Homo sapiens: one gene and its partners. The protein of the gene in region 4 purifies or fractionates together with the protein of the main gene of each other region. This does not show direct contact. Each region holds a gene or a part of one and is shown on either strand. Other genes may lie near its edges. The genes, in order: DIP2A, DENND6A, SBF1, CX3CL1, ATP7A, ADCY6 and UGCG.

The links.
Region 1: the proteins of CX3CL1 (region 4) and DIP2A purify together in Homo sapiens (affinity purification with mass spectrometry; one large-scale study listed by BioGRID and IntAct). This does not show direct contact.
Region 2: the proteins of CX3CL1 (region 4) and DENND6A purify together in Homo sapiens (affinity purification with mass spectrometry; one large-scale study listed by BioGRID and IntAct). This does not show direct contact.
Region 3: the proteins of CX3CL1 (region 4) and SBF1 purify together in Homo sapiens (affinity purification with mass spectrometry; one large-scale study listed by BioGRID and IntAct). This does not show direct contact.
Region 5: the proteins of CX3CL1 (region 4) and ATP7A purify together in Homo sapiens (affinity purification with mass spectrometry; one large-scale study listed by BioGRID and IntAct). This does not show direct contact.
Region 6: the proteins of CX3CL1 (region 4) and ADCY6 purify together in Homo sapiens (affinity purification with mass spectrometry; one large-scale study listed by BioGRID and IntAct). This does not show direct contact.
Region 7: the proteins of CX3CL1 (region 4) and UGCG purify together in Homo sapiens (affinity purification with mass spectrometry; one large-scale study listed by BioGRID and IntAct). This does not show direct contact.

The regions. Positions count from the first base shown.
Region 1 is NC_000021.9:46,531,891-46,535,390, forward strand, and holds part of DIP2A (disco-interacting protein 2 homolog A), read left to right. Parts: intron 1-236; coding exon 237-347; intron 348-1,633; coding exon 1,634-1,757; intron 1,758-2,113; coding exon 2,114-2,223; intron 2,224-2,694; coding exon 2,695-2,797; intron 2,798-3,500. UniProt on the Homo sapiens protein: Catalyzes the de novo synthesis of acetyl-CoA in vitro. Promotes acetylation of CTTN, possibly by providing the acetyl donor, ensuring correct dendritic spine morphology and synaptic transmission.
Region 2 is NC_000003.12:57,655,078-57,658,577, forward strand, and holds part of DENND6A (protein DENND6A), read right to left. Parts: intron 2,659-3,500; coding exon 2,603-2,658; intron 1,419-2,602; exon of another isoform or gene 1-1,418.
Region 3 is NC_000022.11:50,458,036-50,461,535, reverse strand, and holds part of SBF1 (myotubularin-related protein 5), read left to right. Parts: coding exon 1-13; intron 14-249; coding exon 250-377; intron 378-823; coding exon 824-1,002; intron 1,003-1,127; coding exon 1,128-1,264; intron 1,265-1,376; coding exon 1,377-1,584; intron 1,585-1,869; coding exon 1,870-2,066; intron 2,067-2,143; coding exon 2,144-2,281; intron 2,282-3,500. UniProt on the Homo sapiens protein: Acts as an adapter for the phosphatase MTMR2 to regulate MTMR2 catalytic activity and subcellular location. Promotes the exchange of GDP to GTP, converting inactive GDP-bound Rab proteins into their active GTP-bound form.
Region 4 is NC_000016.10:57,375,490-57,378,989, reverse strand, and holds part of CX3CL1 (fractalkine isoform 1 precursor), read right to left. Parts: intron 1-3,500. UniProt on the Homo sapiens protein: Chemokine that acts as a ligand for both CX3CR1 and integrins ITGAV:ITGB3 and ITGA4:ITGB1. The CX3CR1-CX3CL1 signaling exerts distinct functions in different tissue compartments, such as immune response, inflammation, cell adhesion and chemotaxis.
Region 5 is NC_000023.11:77,913,693-77,917,192, reverse strand, and holds part of ATP7A (copper-transporting ATPase 1), read right to left. Parts: intron 1-3,500. UniProt on the Homo sapiens protein: ATP-driven copper (Cu(+)) ion pump that plays an important role in intracellular copper ion homeostasis.
Region 6 is NC_000012.12:48,779,090-48,782,589, reverse strand, and holds part of ADCY6 (adenylate cyclase type 6), read left to right. Parts: coding exon 1-19; intron 20-3,500. UniProt on the Homo sapiens protein: Catalyzes the formation of the signaling molecule cAMP downstream of G protein-coupled receptors. Functions in signaling cascades downstream of beta-adrenergic receptors in the heart and in vascular smooth muscle cells.
Region 7 is NC_000009.12:111,913,814-111,917,313, forward strand, and holds part of UGCG (ceramide glucosyltransferase), read left to right. Parts: intron 1-791; coding exon 792-933; intron 934-1,945; exon of another isoform or gene 1,946-2,023; intron 2,024-3,500. UniProt on the Homo sapiens protein: Participates in the initial step of the glucosylceramide-based glycosphingolipid/GSL synthetic pathway at the cytosolic surface of the Golgi.

The DNA of each region.
Region 1 (3,500 bases), on a different chromosome or scaffold from region 4:
AATTTTGTCTTACAAAGTCAGCACTTATTGGTTATTCATTGTTGCGTGTTCTCAAAGGCCCTGAGTCAACTGTCTCTACTCAGTTAAATACTATTTGGACTTGTCCCTTATGGTTTCAAGCACAATTATTACAATATTTGGGGCTTACAAAAATTTTATTTATAACTAGCTTTTAATTTAACTAGATATTGTAAAAATTGGAAATTTGGAATATTCATTTCTTTGTCCTGTTGTAGGTGGCGCTCGTGTTTCCGAATAGTGACCCTGTGATGTTCATGGTTGCATTTTATGGGTGTCTCCTGGCAGAGCTGGTTCCTGTCCCCATAGAAGTGCCATTAACAAGAAAGGTAGCAAACCCATGGCTCAGGTCCCGTGTGGTTCGCTTCTGAACTTGATACCAGCAGTATCTTACTTCCTTTTCACTCATGTGGGCAGGCAGCAAGCAGCTGTTTTGACAGAGGAGAGAAAGCTAGTAGTCAACAGGCTGGCCAGGACTCAAGAGAAATCAGATGCCGTTTTGCCTGCCTCTCTTCTTGTTAATGAGAGGGGCACTGAGAACCGTTTTGCTGGTGATGCTCCCACACCACACTCTTATTAGGTGGAGCTGTTCTATCATCTACATGAATTTCCCAACAGAAATGATAGCCATTTTTTCCTCTAATGAATAGAATTATGATTCAATAAGATTTTGTTCAACTTTTCCTCAAAACCATATGTTTATAGAAAATAATTATTATTTCTTAGGGATAAATATATCATTACAGTGATATAGCTCACTTCTCAGTGGCAGTTTTGAATAAACGAGATGGAAATTATCTTGCATTTCTGTTCACTTATATGACCGTAGGCAGTTTCTGTTGCTGATAAATTATTAATGTGGGGTCTTGCTGATCTAGGTATCTGTAACATTTTTGATATAACTATCAATAATATGATTACTGAAAAAAAATAGACAAGGCATGAATTTGAGAAAATCAGTTTTCTGTCATCCTGTCCCAGAATTCAGGCAGTTGTTAACAGGAGCATTATCCAGAAATATTCAAGAATCCCAAAAGTAAAATTTGCAAATCAAACTAGTGTATCTCAAAGCATAATATGTGATGGGCAGGTATTTGAATGCAGTGGTTCTTAGGAGTAAAACTAGAGATTTGTCAAATTTATATGAAGAAAATGACAGAATACTGCTGAGGGACACAGAAGACTTGGCTACAAGGAAATGTGTTTCTGTGTGGAAATAATTTAATATCGTTGGTGACCAGGCCTCTCTAGATTAATTTGTAAATTTCAAACATGATTCAATAGAAATTTCAATGCCATTAACTTTGGAGTTTATTAAAAATGCTTCTAAATGTCATTTGTAAGAATAAACTTTGAGAAATTAGCCCATTAAACTTTATATTTCAACACAAATACAAACCAAAATTATCTTTTAAATTTAAACATAGTTGTCACATTTTCATGAACTATTTCCGTGAAAAGATCATATATATCAATAATGGGACTGAATTATTCTGGAAGTTTTATGAGGGATGAAAAAAAGATCTGTTCTCTGTGCATGGCCTGGAGCACCAAGGGTCTGGGGCTGTGGCTGCTGTGAGCACCCCACCCCACACGGTCACTCTGCTTTCTGCAGGATGCAGGCAGCCAGCAGGTTGGGTTTCTGCTGGGCAGCTGTGGAGTCTTCTTGGCCCTGACCACAGACGCTTGTCAGAAAGGCCTCCCCAAGGCACAGACAGGAGAGGTGGCAGCTTTCAAAGGTGAGGCCTCCCAAGGGAAGGGGAGTCAGTGTTCTGACTGTGGTCTGTGTTAAATGCATGGTGTTCCAGAAATTAAACATGACAGAGGTGTCTGGGTCTTCAGCAAAAGTGATCCCTTGTTCGAGTCCTTGGTGAATCTCGGTTTTCATCTGGCTTCATGTCTCGACCTGTACTGTCTAATGTGGTAGCCACTGGCCGGATGTACCTTTTTAAATTATATAAAATGAAATGAGACTAAAACTTGCACTCCTTATTCGCTCAGTAGCTAGTGCTGCATGTTGGAGGCGCAGGCTTCGAGTGTGGGGAGCAGATGCCTCTGACTGCTTGCTGTTCTGTGTCCTGTCTGTGTGTCACAGGTTGGCCCCCGCTCTCCTGGCTAGTGATTGATGGGAAGCATCTAGCCAAGCCCCCAAAGGACTGGCACCCTCTGGCCCAGGACACAGGGACTGGGACTGCCTACATTGAGGTAATGACTGTTCCTAACTTAGAGAATGTAAAAACATGTCCCACAGGCTTAAGTCTTGCTTTTCATAAGAATGTAAGTTGCTATTCTTTTTTGTTAAGTTTCGGCCTAAGAGTTCTTGTTTTATCTCTGCCCTGGAAATACAGAGTGTCATATAAATCCTTGCTCAGATCCTTCCAGGTTTCTCTCTCATCTAATTCTCTCCTAACTGGCTCCCTGGGGATGCAGACAGTTATGAGGGAGCCCATGGCGCACCATTACCCTCGGGCACCTGCCCAAGAGGAGCCACAACTTCCACTGAAGCATCCCCTCAGCGGCCAGGGTTTTGCCATGTACCTGGGCTGCTGGTTAGAGGCCGATGGTTAGAGGAGAGACACTGACCACTTCTTCTTTTGAAGATTCTACCAGTTTCCATTCTGTCTGTTGTCACCTCTAGAAATACCACATCATGTTTTTTTCCTTGAAATCTTTCAGTATAAAACCAGCAAAGAAGGCAGTACGGTGGGGGTCACAGTGTCCCACGCATCCCTGCTGGCACAGTGCCGGGCTCTGACCCAGGCGTGCGGGTACTCAGAAGGTAAGGGCTCTCGGGGGTGGGGCGGTGGCCCCTCCAGCCTCACACAGATACCTGACGTACCTAATCATGTGACTGTCACTGCACCTGTCAAAACCACCCCTGGGTAGTGCCTTTGCCCATTAATCCGGGTCATGCCAGGTAGGGAGATGCACTGTCTTTAGCATGCTTACAGGGTCTCTGTGGTTGTGCTGGCCAAGAGGGCACACGGTGTCTCTTAGCAGAGTCCAGACAACCCCATCAGGGTTGTTTTCAGTAAATGCACATGGATGTTGATTTTATGGAACATGGAACCTATATCCCACTGATTGATTTATACACAGTGCTGGGTTCACAGGCCTGCCCTGGGGGGCTGGCTTACTCTGTGACATACTGAGGGTCAGGGCATTTTTCATTCAAAAAGAGGAAAACACTTTTAGTTTTCTATTACTTTATCTATGACTGTAGTTTTGACCTCAGCTGTCATGGATATAAATATATAAGTAGAATCTTTATGGTTATAGATGATCTGTTGATAAAGTATAGTCAGCACCTGATTTACTTCAAATGTCAGATACTTAACTTGAGATATCTTTAAATTAATATTATTTAATTGATAAGTACTAATTGTATATATTTATGGGGTACACTGTGACAATTTTAAAAACTGTAAAAATGGACTCAGTAGTTTTCTTACATTGTAATACTAGAATTGAACAAAACTACT
Region 2 (3,500 bases), on a different chromosome or scaffold from region 4:
GGCTGGAGTGCAGTGGCACGATCTCAGCTCACTGCAACCTCCGTCTCCTGGGTTCAAGCAATTCTCCTGCCTCAGCCTCCTGAGTAGCTGAGATTACAGGCGGCCCGCCACCATGCCCAGCTAGTTTTTGTATTTTTAGTAGAGACGGGGTTTCACCATGTTGGTCAGGCTGGTCTCAAAATCCTGACCTCATGATCCGCCCGCCTCGGCCTCCCAAAGTGCTGGGATTACAGGCGTGAGCCACTGCATCTGGCGGGAAACAAGAATTTAAAAACAACAAACTTACTTGCCCCACTCTTAAAACAATATTATGTAATTCATATCCAGGAGACAAGACATGTGCTAATCAAAGGTGTTAGTGATGGGGGTAATTAACTAAGGGTTGAGCATCCCTAATGTGAAAATCTACATTACAAAATGTTCCCAAATCCAAAAGGTTTTGAGCATTGACATGATGCCACAAGTGGAAAATTCTACTTATGACCTCAAGGTAAGTCAAAGTCAAAATGCAATCAAAATTTAGTTGCATGCACAAAATCATTAAAAATATTTTTTTAAATTACGTTCAGGCTATGTGTATAAGGTGTATATGAAGCATAAGTGACCCTTGTGTTTAAACTTGGGCCCATCCCCAAGATATCTCATTATGTATATGCAAAAATCCCCAAATGCAAAAAAGTCCAAAATCCAAAACACTTCTGATTCTGACCATTTCAGATATGGGATATGCAAGATTACCACAAAAGCTAAGATAATCAGTAACAAACAATAAAGCGTAAGACTCATACCCAGAAGTTCAAAAGAAAAAATGTCCAATAATTGAACTCTATATTAATTTATGCCAATTCTGCAAATTATTCCTTAATGAGTCAAGTATCAAAACGAGAAATGTACACATTCTTCTTAGTATATTTTGCCTGTAATATTTATTCATTTTGGGGACACTCCCTCTTTTCATCCTAATAATGCCATAACATGTACTTTTTAAGAAAATTAATTTGTTTTAAAAGTCACATTTATAATTTATATGCAGTAAAATTTACCCTTACCAAAGATCTAGAATAGTTCCATCACCTCACGAAATGCCCGCAGCCCTTATGTAGTAGATTTCCTCCCCCAGCCCCAGGTAACCACTGATCTGATTTCTGTCCCTATAGTTTTATCTTTTCCAGAACATCATATAAATGGAATCATTCAGTATCTTTAAATTATCTGGAAACTTTCACTTAGCATAATGCTTTTGGAAGTCTTTCACATTGTTGCATGTATCAACTGTTCCTTCTTTTTTTTAACTGCTGAATAGTATTCCATGTGCATTCATGTATTACATTTTGTTTGTCCATTTACCAGTTGATGGATACTTCGGTTGTGTATAGTTTTATACTGTTATGAATAAAGCTACTATATAGACATTTGCATACAGGTCTTCATGTAGACACATTTTCATTTTTATTGAATAAATACCTAGAAATAGGATGACTGTACTGTGCTAGAGCAACATATAAAACTAACCAATCTTTTTTTTTTTTAAACTAACCAATCTTTTGAAGCAGTATTCCATGTAGTTTACAAGTCATAAAAAACAAACAAAAAGGTCAGCCAGGCGCAGTGGCTCACACCTGTAATCCCAGCACTCTGGGAGGGCAAGGCAGGTGGATCACTTGAGGTCAGGAGTTCGAGACCAGCCTGGACAACATGGTGAAACCCCATCTCTACTAAAAATACAAAAATGTAGCCAGACATGGTGGTGTGCACCTGTAGTCCCAGCTACTTGGGTGGCTGAGGCAGGAGAATCGCTTGAACCTGGGAGGTGGAGGCTGCTGTGAGCCAAGACTGCAGCAGTGCACTCCAGCCTAGGCAATAGAGTGAGACTCTGTCTCAAAAATAAAAGAAAAAAGATCCCACCAAAAAAATCCATTTTAAGTCTTTCATGACTTTTTGAGCATTTCGTAACTGCTCATTTATAGCAGTGGTTTTTCAAGCTGGCCTATACATCAGAACTACCTGGGGAACTAGAACTTGGGTACCAATCCAAAGATTTAGCTGCTCTGGGTAAAGGCACAAACATTACTTTTTATTTTTCCTCTATTTCTTTTCTAAGTGCTAACAGTATCTCTTTTTTGTTTTTTCATTTTCCATGTTGACATTTTTCAAACATACAGAAAAGTAAAAACAACAGTGTGAGAAACATCATATACATATCACTCAGATTTAATGATTAATATTTGCCATTTTTCACGTCATCTATTTTTTCTTACTGAAGTATTTTAAAATAGAACACAAACATCATGACATTTCACTCCCAAATAAAATGCATCTCTTTTTTAAAAAAGCATGTTTTCTAACATTATTACAATATAATTCTCACACTAAACCAAACAAAAATATTTTTACATATAATACATATTCTATATTTAAATTTCCCTAATTGTCAAAGCTTATAACATGTACCCAGGGATGAACCATTGATTTATAACATGTAAAACATAACTATTTTCTTCCAATTTTTTCCACATCCTATATAATATTCATTTTTTAAATAAATTAACACCACCACCACAAAGCAAAAGGAAGTCAGTTAATAAAATTTTTTATTCTTTACCTGAAAATATCCACCTCATGAACAGTAGGTAAAATAACAGATATATTTGTGTCCACCTGAGAGATAGAAAAGAAAAATAAAAGAAGGTATCACCAAAATTTATGGAAAATTTTAAAATATATCTATCTCATGATCAATAAGCCATGCTGCCCTGTCTAACTTTTAAGATTCTCTTCCTTTAGGAACAGCCAGAGAGGGAATGGGTCTTACCAATATTCCCTAATATAGCAGAAAATCAAAAATAATGCAGATAACATGGATAAAGAATTAATCCCGGCCAGGCATGACAGCTCATGCCTGTAATCCCAGCACTTTGGTAGGACAAGGCGGGCGGATCACAAGGTCAGGATATCGAGACCATCCTGGCTAACACGGTGAAATCCCATCTCTACTAAAAATACAAAAAATTAGCCAGGCATGGGGGCAGGCGCCTGTAGTCCCAGCTACTCGGGAGGCTGAGGCAGGAGAATGGCGTGAACCCGGGAGGTGAAGCTTGCAGTGAGCCGAGATTGCACCACTGCACTGCAGCCTAGGTGACAGAGCGAGACTCCATCTCAAAAAAAAAAAAAGAATTAATCCCAAGCTCATGCCTGTAATCCTAGCACTTTGGGAATCCAGGAAGGAGGATCACTTGATGCCAGGAGTTCGAGACCAGCCTGGGTAACAGAGTGAAATCCCATCCCTACAAAAAATATTAAAAATTAGCCAGGCATGGTGGCATGCACCGTAGTCCTAGCTACTTAGGAGGCTGAGGTGGGAGAATCACTTCAGCCCAGGAATTGGAGGCTGCATGAACTACGATTGTGCCACCGTACTCCAGCCTGGGAGACAGAGGGAGACCCTGTCCTTGTTTAAGAAAAAATTAATCCAATAGTAAATCAGATTAATTTGCAACTGT
Region 3 (3,500 bases), on a different chromosome or scaffold from region 4:
ACGGACCCCCTGGGTGAGCCTGCAGACTCTCTGGCCCTGTCGCCCCCTCTCCCCCAGGTCTTTGGGATGGATGGGCTTTCCCTGCCTCCCTCTCCCTTTTCTCGGGGGTTCTGGGTGCCCGTGGGAAACGGGCCTTTGTCTGCTCCTTCCCCACCCACTTGGGATTCCCCATAACTGTGGTACCCTGAGATTCTGGGACCCCCCCCCCCTTACCTTCCTTGCTTCTGACTCTGCCTGGCCTGTCCTAAGTTGGGGAGCAGGTGGTGGTCCGCTCCTTCCCGGTGGCTGCGCTGACCAAGGAGAAGCGCATCAGCGTCCAGACCCCTGTGGACCAGCTCCTGCAGGACGGGCTCCAGCTGCGCTCCTGCACATTCCAGGTGGGGCGCGGTGCGCGGGTGGGGCTCTCATCCCCCGCCCTGGTCTTTCTCCTGCAAACCGGTCTTTCTTGTATGAACCATTTTTAGGCCAGTCTCCAGCAGTGGCCCTGTTGTTACGCTTGCATGTCTGGGGCCCTCACTGTGGCTCTTGAGTTGATGTCCACTGTTTGATGTGCGGTCTTTGGGTCCTTGTCCTTTCCTTGGGGCGCCGGCCCTCAAGTCCGTGTCTTGGGTGTGCCTTGCAAACCCAGGCCTCAGCTCACAGCCACTGAGATTTCGAGTTTACACAAGCGCTTGCCTTCGTGTGACACAGATACAGGCCTTTGCCTGGGGCCTGCTTCTCTCTCTGTCATGGCTGCGAGGGGAAGGGGAGCCTGGCAGTGTCAGAGTTGGGGGAGGGGCTGGGGGGCCACCCACACCCCTAAGGGCTGCTTTTACTGACACAGCTGCTGAAAATGGCCTTTGACGAGGAGGTGGGGTCTGACAGCGCCGAGCTCTTCCGTAAGCAGCTGCATAAGCTGCGGTACCCGCCGGACATCAGGGCCACCTTTGCGTTCACCTTGGGCTCTGCCCACACACCTGGCCGGCCACCGCGAGTCACCAAGGACAAGGGTCCTTCCCTCAGGTATGGATCTGGGTCCCAGGCAGGGCAGCTGGGCCTCAGCCGTGTTCCCGCTCCAACCCTCCTAGGCCCCTGTGCTCATCTTTGTCCCTCCTCCTCTCACCTTTGCTGACTCTCGTGGGCCTCAGAACCCTGTCCCGGAACCTGGTCAAGAACGCCAAGAAGACCATCGGGCGGCAGCATGTCACTCGCAAGAAGTACAACCCCCCCAGCTGGGAGCACCGGGGCCAGCCGCCCCCTGAGGACCAGGAGGACGAGATCTCAGGTGGAGGGGTGGGGGTGGAGTCCTGGGTGGTCTCTGGATGCTGACATTGGCCAGGGAGGATCAGGGCAGGCGGAGTGGCCCCGTGATGACCACGTGTGCCCGGCCTGTGCAGTGTCGGAGGAGCTGGAGCCCAGCACGCTGACCCCGTCCTCAGCCCTGAAGCCCTCCGACCGCATGACCATGAGCAGCCTGGTGGAAAGGGCTTGCTGTCGCGACTACCAGCGCCTCGGTCTGGGCACCCTGAGCAGCAGCCTGAGCCGGGCCAAGTCTGAGCCCTTCCGCATTTCTCCGGTCAACCGCATGTATGCCATCTGCCGCAGGTGAGGGCCGGCCAGGGCTGGCCCGGGTGGTGGACACGTGACTGGGTGTCTTCCCTGCCCGCTGTGGGCCTGGGCCACGGCTTCTGGTCATGTAAGGAATGTGGAGGGGGAGACTCCGGGCAGAGGGACGGGCCACAGGGCTGGGGGGTGGCTGGGGGGCCCCGTGGCTGAGCTGGAAGCGCCTCCTGCTGGGAGCCATGGGCTGGCTCCTCTTGCCCTGCTTGGGGCGTGAGCCTGGAGGCGGGTGGGGTCGCCAGCCACCTTCACGCCTCTGCCTCCTCTCAGCTACCCAGGGCTGCTGATCGTGCCCCAGAGTGTCCAGGACAACGCCCTGCAGCGCGTGTCCCGCTGCTACCGCCAGAACCGCTTCCCCGTGGTCTGCTGGCGCAGCGGGCGGTCCAAGGCGGTGCTGCTGCGCTCTGGAGGCCTGCATGGCAAAGGTGTCGTCGGCCTCTTCAAGGCCCAGAACGCACCTTCTCCAGGTACCTCCTGCGTCCTGCCCTGTGCCTGCCCTGCCCTATCTCACCCTCCCCTCCCTCAGCTCCGTGTCCTCCCCCAGGCCAGTCCCAGGCGGACTCGAGTAGCCTGGAGCAGGAGAAGTACCTGCAGGCTGTGGTCAGCTCCATGCCCCGCTACGCCGACGCGTCGGGACGCAACACGCTTAGCGGCTTCTCCTCAGCCCACATGGGCAGTCACGGTGAGGGTGCTTGTGGGCAGACGGTGGGGCAGGGGCACTTTGGGGGGCCGTGGTGGCATTTATGGTTTGGCAGGCAGGCCAGGGAGGAGCAGAAACGGCGCTGGTCATGGATGTTTGGGTGTGGGATGAGGAGCATGCCCTCCGGGTGCCGTGGGGCAGGGGCGGGAAGCCTGTCCAGACCAAGTGTGTGCCCAGACCAGGTGTGTGCCCTGACCTCCTGCCCGCCCTGACGTCCTGCCCGCTCTCCACCTCTGCGTCTGCTGCAGCTTCCTGTAGGGTCCTCCGGGTGCTGCCTCTACGCGGCTCTGTCTTACCATTTCCCACAGCCTGGAAACATCCCAGATGCTCCTCTGTCCTGTTCCCTCCCAGTGTCACTGTTTTTCCTCATCCCCCACACTCCACCCTCCCTGCATCCCCCAATCCAGACTGTCTTTGGAGCCTCTGGCCTGGCTCTGCCTGCAGCTTGGCCTCTGTCCTCGTGTGTCCTGGTTCCTTGGGCCTTGCCCGAGCTGGCCTTGCTGTCTCTGTCCCCACCGCCACGCACACTTCACAGGCGCCCTGCACACACTGAGCTAGACTGGCCCCAGGACGGGGTGGCAGATAGGCCCCACACTCACTCCTGTGTCCGGACCACCTGTTCTCTAGTTCAGAAGTGGTTTTGTTTTTCCAGATACCACATTATATACTTACATTTTACAATCGCCCTGTCTTGCTGCCTTCCCACCCCTGCCAGAAACCCTGAGTGGCATTTGCAGGTGGGGCCGCCCCTGCACCCCCCATGCCTGTGCTTCCCACAGAGTCCCTTTTGCGTCTCCGACCATCCCCAGTGCCAGTGGCTGCTGCCTCCCCGTGTCCCCCTCAGTGCCCAGCAATGCTCAGGGGCTCAAGCTTCACTCAGCTGTAGTCGTGGCTTCTAGTCCCAGCCCTGACCTTTTTTTTTTTTTTTTTTTGAGTCGGAGTCTTTCTCTGTCACCCACGCTGGAGTGCGGTGGTGCGATCTCGGCTCACTGCAAGCTCCACCTCCCAGGTTCACGCCATTCTCCTGCCTCAGCCTCCCGAGTAGCTGGGACTACAGGTGCCCGCCACCGCGCCCGGCTGATTTTTTTGTATTGTATTTTTAGTAGAGACAGGGTTTTACCGTGTTAGCCAGGATGATCTCGATCTCCTGACCTGGTGATCCGCCCGCCTCGGCCTCCCAAAGTGCTGGGATTACAGGCGT
Region 4 (3,500 bases):
ACAGGGACCTGCTAAGGTCACACAGCCAGCAAGTGATGGAGCAGGTTCTCCTGCTCTAGTCCCCACCGGGCCTGTGGCCTTGCCTATCCCCTCACCTCTGCCTTATTTCTTCCCGCTGCCATTTTTTTTTAAGAGATAGGGTCTTGTTCTGTTGCCCAGGCTGGAGTGCAGTGGTATAATCCTAGCTCACGGCAACCTCAAAATCCTGGGCTCAAGAAATCCTCCTGGCCGGGTGCGGTGGCTCACACCTGTAATCCCAGCACTTTGGGAGGCCGAGACAGATAGATCATCTGAGGTCAGGAGTTTGAGACCAGCCTGATCAATATGGTGAAACCTTGTCTCTACTACAAATACACAAATTAGCCTGGCATGATGGTGTGCACCTTTAGTCCCAGCTACTCGGGAAGCTGAGACAGGAGAATTGCTTGAATCCGGGAGGCAGAGGTTGCAGTGAGCTGAGATCATACCACTGCACTAAAGCCTGGGTGACAGAACAAGACTCCGTCTCAAAAAAAAAAGAAAAAAAAAAAAGAGATCTCTTGCCTCAGCCTCCCAAGTAGCTGGGACTACAGGTGCCTGCTACCATGCCTGGCTAATTTTTTTAAGAGACAGGGTCTTGCTATGTTGCCCAGGCTGGTCTTGAACCCCGACCGCAAGTGATTCTCCCACTTCAACCTCCGGAATAGCTGGGATTACAGATGTAAGCCACTATGCCCAGCAATAAACTTTTTAAAAAATATATAAGTACAACTGCTTTCTAAGGAAGGTGGGGTCTGCTGAATAGATGATCCTTTGTTCTGCTGCTGAGAGCCAGAATGAGCCCGAGAGCAGTTGCTGAAAGGTACTGAGTCATCCTGCCTAGGAGGGAAGAGGCATTTGAAATTCCTGGAGCAAGAAGAGTAAGGAGGAGGGTTGGAGATGGACGGTATGAATAAGGTGGGGGCAGAGTGGGGCGGAAGGGGCAGGCAGTAGCTGAGTGTCACGTGGAACCAGAGAGAAACCCCGGGACAGGACAAATAAACCCAACTATTTGATATAAACATTTGAAGTTGTTTACATTGAATTTCCACCTTTTCTCTTCCTCTATAATCTCCAGCAAATTTTCTTCTGCTTAGCTTGAGCTCAAGGAGGATGAGTATAAAAAACAAGGAAGAGCTTGAGTTTCAGATCTGAGTCAAGGTTATATGCAGCAAAAGCAAGACCCCAGAGGGTTTTGCAAACATCTGGAGACCAGGGCAGTCAAGAGAGCAAGCTGATCTTATCTAGCCCTTCAGAGCCTGGGAAACCCCCAGGGCATCCCTGGGCTCCACCAGAACACGAACTGCTCATGCATAAATATTTACATATATGTGGCCATGCAAACATACACCACTTTCCCAAATACAGGCACATGCACGCTTGCACACACAGAGAGACTTTGTAGAGTCTGCTGCTTCCTCTCTCCATCGCTCCCCCTTAGCTTTGGCCCACCCTGCTTTGTGGGAAGGTGGTTTAGGGCCGGCAGGTCTGGGTTGAGTCATCAAGGAGAAGCACTAGTAGCTTCAGGGGGTTGGGGGCTGTGTGCAGGAGGGGCTCCCCAGGTCACAGGGCTGTCCTTTCTCTCTGAGTAACCAGGATATAAAAGTCACTGTGTGGGCTGGCCACCCTCCTTCTGCAATGGAACCTCAGACTGACTCACCTGCAGCCTCCCCAGGCCCTATTGAGTGGAGCCAGGTGGCAGTCCCCTAAAATGGCCTGCAGGTGTCTTCTTTGGGAAGCCCCAGAAAATACGGTGCCCCTGAGTGACCAGAGACAGGAGGAGGCAAGGGAGGCTGCCCAATGGATAGGAAAGAAGGTCCATTCTGTGCTCCCCAAATCCAAGATGGGAAAAGCCATTGCCCACCTCCAGGGCTTTAAAGAGCCACAGAGTCATCCTGTCTCCAAAGTCCCCACCCTCTGCCACGGTCCCTGAATGGTCCTGGCCCGGCTCAGTTCTTGGTTCTGCCAGGAAGATTGTTTAACTGACCTGGGGAGCCTGTCCCTTCTCAGAGCTGAAATTTTCCTTTCTGTAAATGGAGACAATGCCTCATCCAGCCAGTCATATATTATCTGTCATAGGAGTGTCAGGAAGGCAGGGACCTTGTCTGTCTTGGTATCATAGTTTCCCAGCATCAAGCACAAGGTGGATACTCAATCAATATTCATTGAATGAAATTAGTCTCAGTTTACTTATCTCTCTTTAATGCATCTATCTACCTATCCATCCACCCGTCCACCCACTCTTATCAATCTTCTACCCATTCCTCGCCCACCTGCCACCTCCTGCCCAACCCCTATTCATCTCCATTCATCCATCTACCCACTCCCTCTCCCCTACCTACCACCTGTCAATCTTCCGCCCCCTTTTATCTCACCTACTCATCCATCCCTCATCATCCCCTCCCCATCCCTTCTTCCATCCATCCATCTGTCCATCCATCCACCCATCCATCCATCCATCCATTCATCCATCTATCCACCCATCCATCCATCCATCCATCCATCCATCCATCCATCCATCCATCCATCCACTTCCTGATTCAGCCAACACTGGCTGGAATTACTTTTGAGTATATACAAAAATCTCAGGCCCTCTTATCCTTAACCTTGAGCTCTTTCTCCCATAGGCACTGGTGCTGAGTTTGAAGAGAGTGCTTCCATCCCAATAAATGCCATCAGATCACTCTGTTTATTCAGTCAACCAACAAATGCTGGTTCCTCTTGCCAGGCCCTGTGCTGGGTGCTGTGAGGTACAGTGAGATGAACAAGGAATGCCTCTGGCCTCAGAAGGCTCCCAGCCTGATGGACAGGTAAATTAGGCACACAAAGTATCAGAGGTTTTATTTATTTTTTTTAATTGAACACCTACTGTGTATTGGACCCTGTGTCCAGCATGTACACATCTGCTCTCTTTAATTCCCAACATTCCTGCAAAGGGAGTATTATCCCAACTTTACAGATGCAGAAGCTGGAAATAAGAGAGGCTAAATGTGCCCAGTGCCACACAGCTGCATGGTGGCAGAGCTAGTTTTCTACTCAGCCCCTAAACACCCCACTGTTCTAGGCTACCCTAGATGCCAGGTAGAAACACAGTGTTCCAGAACATACCACAAACATATTGGGGTTTACATGAGGGAGAGACCACTTCCAACTTCAAATGGTCAGGGGAGGCTTCTTGGAGGAATTCTCCTTTAGGCTGGACCTCAAGGACTTCTAAGAGTCTTCCAGGGTCTTAGAAGGAGACTCAGGAAATGTCCTGGGTTGCTGGATGAGGTGATAAAGGGAGGGCTTGAGCCATTGCCCAGCTGTGTGTCCTGAGCAAGTCACTCGGACTCCCTGAGCCTCAGTTTCCTTACTTGTAAAATGGATGTGACAATACCTGCTTCACAGTGTGGTTGTGAGAATAAGAATTTTTTAACTTCTGGAGCATTTTTCCCTTAGGGCAAGGTTTCTCAACAGTGACACTACTGACATTTTGGACC
Region 5 (3,500 bases), on a different chromosome or scaffold from region 4:
ATAGTCCATGCTCTTATCATTTATTTCTATGACTTTGTTTAGAACTGGTCCCCTCACCTAGAATGTTTTCTTGCACATATTTAAGTTCTATTACTTCACTAGTCTGTAAACTCCACAGAAACAGGACCATATCTGCTCTGTTCACTATCATACCACCAGTGAACATGGTGGCTACTCAATAAATCACTGTTGAGTAAGTAAATGAACTGAAGTCCCACCTCCTTCATGAAAAATCATGTCAAATACTCCTAGCCACTTTCTTTTTAAATTCCGAATACCCTGGAATCAGTTTCATAGTTTAGTAGTACCTAATTTCTCTCTGCTTGGTATTAAACTTCTTTCTCTTGCTAGACATTGGAACATATGCCTTATGCTTCTTTGTATAGCTCACAGGAAACACTGAATATGCAATAAGCACACAATAAAAATGTACTAATCAAAGTGCTGACATGCTTTGTAAAAATTCAATTTACACACAACTTTGTAAGAATGCAGCTATTTGCAGAGTAGGTTAGACATACATAAGGCCTTTTCCCTTGCTTACACTGTATCACAACTTATTCAGTACAAGTATGGTTCAGCATTTGACAATTAGGGAATGTGGAAAATCTCGATGGCCTAGAGTCTGTGGCTCACTAATTACAGAAGCAGATTGTTATGAGTTTTCTTGATAGGGAAATAGGATGAGCACATCACAGTGATTTGATTTGCCAGCTGTAATAATGAGCTTTAAGATGCCATGTTAGCATATGTAGGTGTACTATAGGCTACTGGGGGACCCTCTCAATCTGAGTTTTCCATTTTCTTTCTCTTTTTTTTTCTTTTTTTTTTTTTTTTTGAGACAGGGTCTCACTCTGTCACCCAGGCTGGACTGCAGTGGCATGATCTCAGCTCATTGCAGCCTCAACCTCCCAGGCTCAAGCAATTCCCCCACTTTAGCCTCCCCAGTAGCTGGGACTATAGGCGCATGCCACCACACCTGGCTATTTTTTGTAATTTTTGTAGAGATGGGGTTTCACCTTGTTGCCCAGGCTGGTCTGGAACTCCTGAATTCAAGCAATCTACCCACCTCAGCCTCCCAAAGTGCTGAGATTACAGGCGTGAGCCACCGCACCGGCCAATTTTCTATGGTGTAAGTTAGAAATTAAGTATTGTGCCGGGCGTGGTGGCAGGGCCGGGAGCGGTAGCTCAAACCTGTAATCCCAGCACTTTGGGAGGCTGAAGCGGACAGATCACCTGAGGCCAGGAGTTTGAGACCAGGCTGGCCAACATGGCGAAACCCCATCTCTACTAAAAATAAATAAATTAGCCGGGTGTGGTGGCACACGCCTGTAACCCCATCTACTCGGGGGGCTGAGGCATGAGAATCGCTTGAACCCTGGAGGCAGAGGTTGCAGTGAGCCGAGATCGTGCCATTGCAACTCCAGCCTGGGCTACGGAGCAAGACCCTGTCTCCAAAAAAAATTTTTTTAAAGAATTTAAATATTGCTTGCAAGTATTGATTGATTAGTATATTGATCCTGTAGTCTACTAAATTTATAGTACAGCAAAACTGTAATTTATAATTTTATTATATAGGATGTTAAAATTACTTTTACAGTAAATAATATATTAAAATATTAAAGGTAACTACATTTTATTGTATGTTTACTATCTGCCAGACACCGTACATGTATTAGATCATTAACAATCCTGTGAGACAGGTACTGTTATTGTCCCCATTTTAGAAATTTGAAGGAACTGAGGCACAGAGGAGTATGAAATCTGCGCAGGGTCATACAAGTAGTAAGCAGAGGGGCTGGGATCCCACCTAGACAGTCTAGCACCTGGACTGAGCCAGACAAGACAGGCTTTTTTTTTTTTTCCGGACAAGACAGGGTCTCACTCTGTCACTCTCTCATCCAGGGTGGAGTGCAGTGGTGTGATCTCAGCTCACTGCAGCCTCAACCTTCCAGGCTCAAGCGATCCTTCCACCTCAGCCTCCTGAGTAGCTGGGACTACAGGCACGTGCCAACACACTCAGCTAATTTTTGTATTTTTTGTAGAGACAGGGTTTCCCTATGTTGCCCAGGCTGGTCTCGAACGCCTGGGCTCAAGCAATCCGCCTGCCACGGCCTCCCAAAGTGCTGGGATTACAGGCGTGAGCAACTGTGCCCCACCTAGCCTCCACTCTTAATCCTATATTATACTGTCTCTCCAAAACAATATATCGCAATACAATGGTGAAGTTAAGATACCTTGAAGCATCAAGAGAATAATATCTAATACTCCAGAAAATGTTCAAAGATATTACTGTCAAGATGAAAAAACAAACATAGACCATTTCACTCCAGCCTAGGTGACAGAGCCAGACTCCATCTCAAAAATAAATAAACAAAAATAAACATTAGGTGTTTTAGTATATCTAAATATACATTTAGTATATCTTTTCTTTCTAGGAGAATCTGAGAATACAATTAAGACACCATTTTTAACACTAGGTGTTTTAAGGCCTGGCACAGTGGCTCATGCCTGTAATCCCAGCACTTTGGGAGGCTGAGGAGGGTGGATCACTTGAGGTCAGTCAGGAGTTCGATACCAGCCTGACCAACATGGCAAAACCCCTTCTCTACCAAAAATACAAAAACTAACCAAGTGTGGTGGCGCGCACCTGTAATCCCCGCTACTTGGGAGACTGAAGCAAGAGAATCACTAGAACCCAGGAGGCGGAGGTTGCAGTGAGCCGAGATAGCACCACTGCACAGCACGATGCTGTCTCTACAAAAAGTTTAAAAATTAGCTGGGAGTGGTGGCACACACCTATAGTCCCAGCTACTCAGGAGGCTGAGGTAGGAGGATCGCTTGAGCCTGGGAGATCGAGACTGCAGTGAGTTATGATGGCGCCACTGCACTCCAGCCTGGGTGACAGAGCAAGACCCCATCTCTTAAAAATAATATTATTTAAAAAATAATAATTAATTAATAAATAAGTAGCTAGGCATGGTGGCATGCGCCTGTGGTTCCAGCTACTTGAGAGGCCAGAGGATCATTTGAGCCCAGGAGATTAAGGCTGCAGTGAGCTATGATTGTGCCATGGCACCCTAGCCTGGGCCACAGAGCGAGGCCCTGCCTCTAGAAATAAATACATAGATAAATAATAACAATAACATCTTTTAAAATAAAAATAAAATAAAATAAGGTTAATGGCCAGTCTAAAACAATATCCCTACAATGTGAAATAACCCATTTATTTCAACTGGTAAATTGTTAAAAATGCACTCCTGATTATAGGTCTGAAAAACTGGACTTCTACACTAGAGATTAATAGTAAAAATAAGTAAAACTCTTTTTTCATCCTTGAGACATAGCTGTATAATTTTAAATGTGAACAGAAAATATGGTACAAAGTACACATAACTGACTCAAAATGGGGTATTTTACCCTCATTTCCTTCAAGGAAAGAGGTATCTGTGAAAACTGATGTAGTCTACCAATATCTCATACATTTGGGCACAAAAAGA
Region 6 (3,500 bases), on a different chromosome or scaffold from region 4:
TGCCTTCCTCTGGAAGCAGGTAGGTGGCCAGGGAGGTAGGGATGGAGGGCAGCAGGTGGGGAATTTCTCACCTCATAAGCAGGTGGGGGCTTAGTGAGGAAGGGCGGGTGAGTCATGGGTGGAAGCTGGGTGCAGGGATGTCTGGCTGTATCTGGGAGGAGGAGCAGGAGGTGGGAGGCTAGGGTTGAGGGGTCTGCCTCCATGTGGGATCTGGGGTAGAGGACACTGCTGAGGGGAGGGAGGGCCCCAGGACCCAAGCCTGAACTCTGTCACCATGGGCCCCAGTCTCCGGCTCTTTAGCCCGCTGAAATAGTGCAGTCTGTAGAGACAGAATGTGGGGCTGGAGGCAGGGGTGTGGTATATAGCCCCAGGGCCACCGTGGGGCTGAAAAGGCAGTGCAGGCTGTGTCCAGGCCTTAGCATCTCAGCAGGCAAGTTGACACCAGAGACTGAGGCGCTGGTGCTATCCCTGAAGAGCAGCTCTAGGTGGTGATCTGGAGGTATAGAGCAGGTTTTGGATGTTGTCAGCAAGAGAGGAGTCCCCTCTTTCCTGGACCAAGGCCACTTCTGGGAGGACAGGGAAGGTGAAGAGCTGGGGTCAGTTCTCTCTGGGCTGGATGTGGTTTGAATGGGGTTGGACTGTTGAAGAGAGGAGCGTTAAGTCTGATCGTATCCCACCTTCCCCATGCTGGGCACCAGGGACCTGGGCGCCTTTCCTTGAGGTTCTCTGTCCATGCCTGTTGCTGCCTCCAGGCTCCAAGTGTGTGTGAGGTGGGACTCCACGGCTCCGTGTGGAGTGGCTGTAGGCTGACCTGCTTATCCAGTGGGCTGTATTCTTTTCTGTGGGATCTTAGACAACTAGCCTCACCTCTCCCAGCCTTAGTTTCCCAGTCTGCAAAGCTGGAATAAAAATAGCATCTAGCTCATGTTGCTGTTGGGGCCCCACCCTTTCCTAGAGTGGAGTAGAACCCGACTGGGCAGTGTTCACACCTGGGGGCAGGGAGGTTTGGGGAGTGCTGGAAGGCATGGTACCCAGTGAAGGGGTTTCTGGGAAGTCCCTTTCAGAGAGATGTTAGTTTGTGGATCTGCCATCTCCTGTTACCCCCCTGCCCAGGGAGCAGAGGCCAGGGTCCTTCAGGCGCTGCTGTAGGCACAGCCCCGCCATCAGCACAGCGCCTGGGTCCTCCACTGGACCCTAACTAGAGAGTGCTGTCTTGCTCAAGGTTTTGAAGGCTTGTGGCCTGTTGCCCACCCTGCCTCAGGCACAGAGAGGAAGTTGCCTGGGGATCCCAGGGTGAGAAGCTAGGTTCTCTGGCATGATGCCCTTCTCCACCCAGCCTGTGCTGCAGAACAGAACTTACCTGTTTTTTTTGTGGTTTTTTTTTTTTTTTGAGACGGAGTCTTGCTCTGTCGTTAGGCTGGAGTGGTGCAGTGGCGCGATCTCAGCTCACTGCAACCTCTGCCTCCCAGGTTCAAGCGATTCTCCTGCCTCGGCCTCCTGAGTAGCTGGGACTACAGGAGCGCGCCACCATGCCCAGCTAATTTTTGTATTTTTAGTAGAGACAAGTTTCACCATGTTGGCCAGGATGGTCTCGATCTCTTGACCTCATGATCCACCCGCCTTGGCCTCCCAAAGTGCTGGGATTACAAGCGTGAGCCACCGCACCTGGCCAGAATGCCAGAATGCCAGAACGTACCTTTTTAAAAGTAACTTTATAGCCCGTTTGTTTGTGGAGCACGTGCCCTTAGGGCACTGTCAGACATCTTAAAGGGCCAGGTCCTTCTGCCCCAAAGCTTCTCTTCCAGGGTGGCTCTCAACCAGGGCTTTATGGCTGGACTGCCCTCCTGGGGAAGGAGCTTAGAGGTGGTGTCTCCTTTCCCCCTTCCTCTCTGGCCAGGCATGGGCTGGGTGGGCATCTGTTCCCTGCTCTCGACTGGCATGGTGCCCAGAGCCAGGCCCAGTGCCTGACTGGGGAGGTGCAGTCCCAGGGAGGCCAGGACTGTGCCCGTCTCCCCAGGAGTGTCTGGCTACAGCTTCATGTAGTGGATCTCGATAGGCACATTCTTGGGGCAGTGGCGAAATTCACTGCTGCCCCTGTGCCAGTCCTTGGGGCCAGAGCTGCCCATACAACTTCCTCTGGGCTGAGAAACATTCCCTGTGCCCATTTGGGTATGTGGGTTTCTAGACAGGTGGGGTTTGTGGCCTCCTTCCTCGTCTACTTGGGCAGCCCCTTCCCAGATCCACCCCTACTCACAATCACAGGAAGGAGACTTTGTCCCCTACCGACCCACTCATTTAGACATACTGAACAGTGTCACCCAGTGACCCAGGCCCAGCTTGGAGTCTCCTCCGGTCCCCTGGCATCCATTTTTTCTCATAGTCAGATAGGGATGTGTGTGTACAGAGTTATTTCAGTCTCGTCCCCCTTCCCCTTCCCTCCACCGTGACTCACATTTTCCTCTTGGGCTCCTGGGGCCAGGAAGGGAAGTTGCCTGGTTTGCCCCCCTTCCCTTCTCCCCCACTGGGGGCTATTCTTAGAAACCCCCAAGGGAGATAGTGTGCCCCTCTCTTCACCCCTGCTGCTGGGAGGGGGAGCTCAGCCTAGTTGATCCTGGGCCTGTGAGCTGGACTGGGAAGGGAAGCTAGGAGGCCCATCCCAGAGGCTGGAGCTGGAAATGGCTAGGGGTGAGCCAGGCCTCCCCCTCAGTTTTACCCAAGAGGAAACTGAGGTCCCAAAGTTTAAGTGACCTGCCCAATTTTGCAGGACTAGTTCTAGTTCAAGTTAGAGCCCAGAACCTCTGGCTTCCAGGAAGTGCTTCTGCTGTTTCTCTCCCTTCTCCTTAAACCAGAGCCCTGCCCCATCCAACTCTGGGGTGGAGCCGCAAGCTCCAGGTTAATTCCTGAGTTTCCAGAAACACTGAGGCCAGCTTCCCTTAGACTTGCTCTCTAGCCAGTGCCGCTGATGATGATTGGGGGCTGAACATTCCTAGGGTGGGGCCCTAGGCCTAGGGCCTGGCAGGGCTGAGTGTCAGAGGGAGTTACACCTTGAGGGGTGGCCAGGCATGGTGGACCCCATCTCCAATTAGGGGACATCCTTTGTATCAGTAGAACTGATGACTCTCAAGCCAGGGCTCTGAGGTTGGGCTTGAGAGCTTGACTCAGTAGAGTGAGTAGGAATCTTGGAAACCTGGAATGCACTACAAAGTATGGAATGCAGTAGATAGATAGTAGGATTAGGACACAGGATTTGGAATCTGATTGTCCTGGGTTCAAGTCTCACACTAGCCACTAACAGCTGTGTGATCTTGGGGAAGTTACTTGGCCTCTCTGTGCCTCATTCCCTTACCTTTAAAATGGGATATTGTTACCTATTTCACAGAGTTTTAAGAAATGTGTTAGGGGCCAGGTGCGGTGGATCATGCCTGTAATCCATGCCCGTAAGCACTTTGGGAAGCCGAGGTGGGCGGATCACTTGAGGTCAGGAGTTCAAGACCAGCCTG
Region 7 (3,500 bases), on a different chromosome or scaffold from region 4:
GCCATTTGGTCACTTATCTATGAACTGGTGGCACTGGTATATCTTCCAGTGTCATTAATAGACATTTTTCTCATCATTGAGTTTTTTTCTTACTTTCAGTTTCCTTCTGTTCTACCCCTGCCATTCTGACCTTATTAATATTGGGAGTTCCAGTTGTCCCATTATCTTGCTTGCCATGCAGACTGCTTGACACTTCTTTTAACTGTGTATTATCCCACTGCAAAGAAATTTCTCAGAAAGTTCTGGTTATCCTTTCATAATTTTCTGCTGCAGACGGTGTTTTATTTTACCTGTTTTTATAGTTCTGTGGCCACTTCAGTGGCAATTTAAGAGGAAGAGGAGTTAATCTTTGGGCTAACACTGCCATTCATTTCTTCACCATGTATTTTATTGAAATGCCTGCGCTATGCCTGGCATAGTTCTGTGAGTATAGCAATAGTCAGAGAGTAGTACATCATGGGTATTCAATCTTTTGGCTTCCCTTGGTCGTATTGGAAGAAGAAGAATTGTCTTGGGTCACATATAAAATACACTAACAATAGCTGATGAGCTTTAAAAAATCGCAAAAAATCTCATAATGTTTTAAGAAAGTTTATGAATTTGTGTTGGACCGCATTCAAAGCCATGCTTACCTGGTTCTACTTCCCTTCATGTTTAGATCCTCTTTTAGAAAGATGTCAAGTTTTAAAAATCTTAACTTAGAATTTAGGGATTTATTGATAGCTTGTCAGTGCTTTGATTTGACACTAATGTATTCTATAGAAATAATTTTTATATCATTTGCTTTTTAGCCGATTACACCTCAACAAGAAGGCAACTGACAAACAGCCTTATAGCAAGCTCCCAGGTGTCTCTCTTCTGAAACCACTGAAAGGGGTAGATCCTAACTTAATCAACAACCTGGAAACATTCTTTGAATTGGATTATCCCAAAGTAAGTTCAGTGTTACGGTTTTTTGTTTTGTTTTGTTTTGTTTTGTTCCCCTCATGATAAACATTTAGGGATTTTAACACTGTATAAGGTGAAGGTATTAAAAATTCATGATGATATTGGCCTCATAAAATATAACCTTTAGTAGTAGTCATCACAGAACAGAAATAGGTTGAGGAAGGGGTGTAAATTCCCTTTCTAACCACCTATATGTCCGTGTGAAGTAGAGATCCCTGAGTAAACCTTCTGAAACTCAGACATTGTCAAGTGCCTGGTAGTTTGAAAATAAAAATTTTCTTCCATAAGAGCTGGATATGAACAATAGGAAGAGGAGACAAGGAGAGGGAGAAAGCAGTGTTAGTGGTCTGAAATGGGTTGCAGTACAGCCAGAACTAAACGTGACTTCTCCGGAGAAACTGGCTTTGAGCCAAGAATAGATTACAGTTAGTGGTACTGTAGGGTTTCATCTTACCTCATTTTTAATTTCCTTACTGTTCTGATTTTAATAGCTAATTGTATTGCTTATACCATTTATCTATATAATCTGTATATCTGTAAACTCAGTGTACTCCCTTAATTGGAGACCTTCCAGTTTTCTTGAGATGAAAGTATTCTTTTTATCACTTTGCTTTAGTAGTCCACCTGTAGTTTCTTAGGATAACTTAATATTCTTTGATTTTTGTACTTAGCTTTACAGCAGCTTTGTATTAAATTGCTTGAGACTGCTTTTGAAAGGGCATTTTGGTGGTAACAGATCACTTGTGAGAAGAATGTGTCTTTAAGCTTCTACCCACTTGACTTTCAGTACAGTTTAGTTTTCCCTTTGCGGTCTCTATTCACTTGCCTCAATTTTTACCCTATTGCCTCAGTTTTTCCATAGCTGTTTTTGCTACTGGGAGAGTCGTCCCTCTTAATTTTTTTGGACAGGGTAGCTCAAATAATCAGAAGGAAGATGATATGCGCACTACACTTCTTATGGTGACTGGTTTTCATGCTCTTATTTCTTTTCTTTTAGCCTTTATTTTTCTCGGTAGCACCAATGAAAAGAATAGAGAAGACACAGATGTGATAGCCTTAATGCAGCACTTATTAAGTAGGTAGACATGAGTATCATTCAGTTGTATTTTTAGTGTTTTTATATTATTGCTTTGGAGTTTTGGAGTTTAGAAGCCAATTTTGGAGTATTGGAAGCTGTTTTGAAGCAAAAAAATTATATGTTCTAGTTTGTGTGTGTTTATATGCTTAATAATTTTAGATATTTGAATTAAATACATGTGTTAACTTCAATCAAATATATAATTTTTAAATAAGATATAATTGTATATACTTGTTTTTTCAAACTAAAAAATGGTAAAACTTAGCCTTTTGTAATTGAGAAAGATATAAATAAAATTAATTGTAAAATAAGCTTTGCAGTAAGAAAAATGGGAGATTTTCAAGCTCCATAAAAGTAAATGCAAAGGAGAATTAATGTTTACGAATGAAAGAAATTTTCTATTGATTATGAATGAATCTTAGAGCATAGCTTAGAGTCATATGCATTATCATTGTGAAACTTAATCTCACATTTCAGTTTTTTAACCATCCTCTTTCACTTTCCCCATTCAACCACTCTTAAAATTGGTCATGGAATTTTTACGTTGTAGTGCTTGTGAGATGATAGTCATGGGGTTTAAATGCTTGAGGAAGTCAGTGAGGGGTTTAGTTGTAGAAAGAATGGTTTTTTGTGTTCGTTTTTGTTTTTAAGACAGTATCTTGCTTTGTCACCTAGGCTGGAGCATAGTGGCACAGTCGTGGCTCACTGCAGCCTCAGCCTCCCAGGCTCAACCAGTCCTCCCACCTCACCCTCCCTGGTAGCTGGGACTATGGGCATGTGCTACCACACCTGGCTGATTTTTGTATTTTTTGTAGAGGGTGTTGCCATGTTGCCGGGGCTGGTCTTGAACTCTTGGGCTCAAGCAATCCCCCCACCTCAGCCTCCCAAAGTGCTGGGATTACAGACATGAGCCACCATGCCCTACTGAAAGAATTTTAAAAAGTAACCCCAGGGTTATATGTATCCATTGATTACGAGCATTTCTAATGACCCCATAACTGATTTCTTGTGAATGAAGATTTTGGCCAGGCGTGGTGGCTTGTGCTTGTAATCCTAGCACTTTGGGAGGCTGAGGCGGGAGGATTGCTTGAGGCCAGGTGTTCAAGACCAGCCTGGGCAACACAGTGAGACCCCCACCTTCAAAAAAATAAAAATTAAAAAATTGAAATAAAAAATTGTTTTGGAAATTACAGTTTAGAATGATCTCAAGAGCTCTTGTTTTCACTTAGAGTAGTAGCTCTTTTTCCATTTAGTTATATCATTTAAGTGGGTTGAGGAGAAAGCTATTTTGACATTCATTGTAAGATGAAGAATAGCATCTGCAGATTATTTTATTCTTTGTTAGTACAGAATTTTATTTTCTAATTATAAACTTATATTTAGCTGTATAAATAGAAAGTTTGGAAAGCAGAGGAGAAGTGCAAAGTACCTGCAATCTAAGGGAAATATTTGATTTCACAGCATTTTATTTACT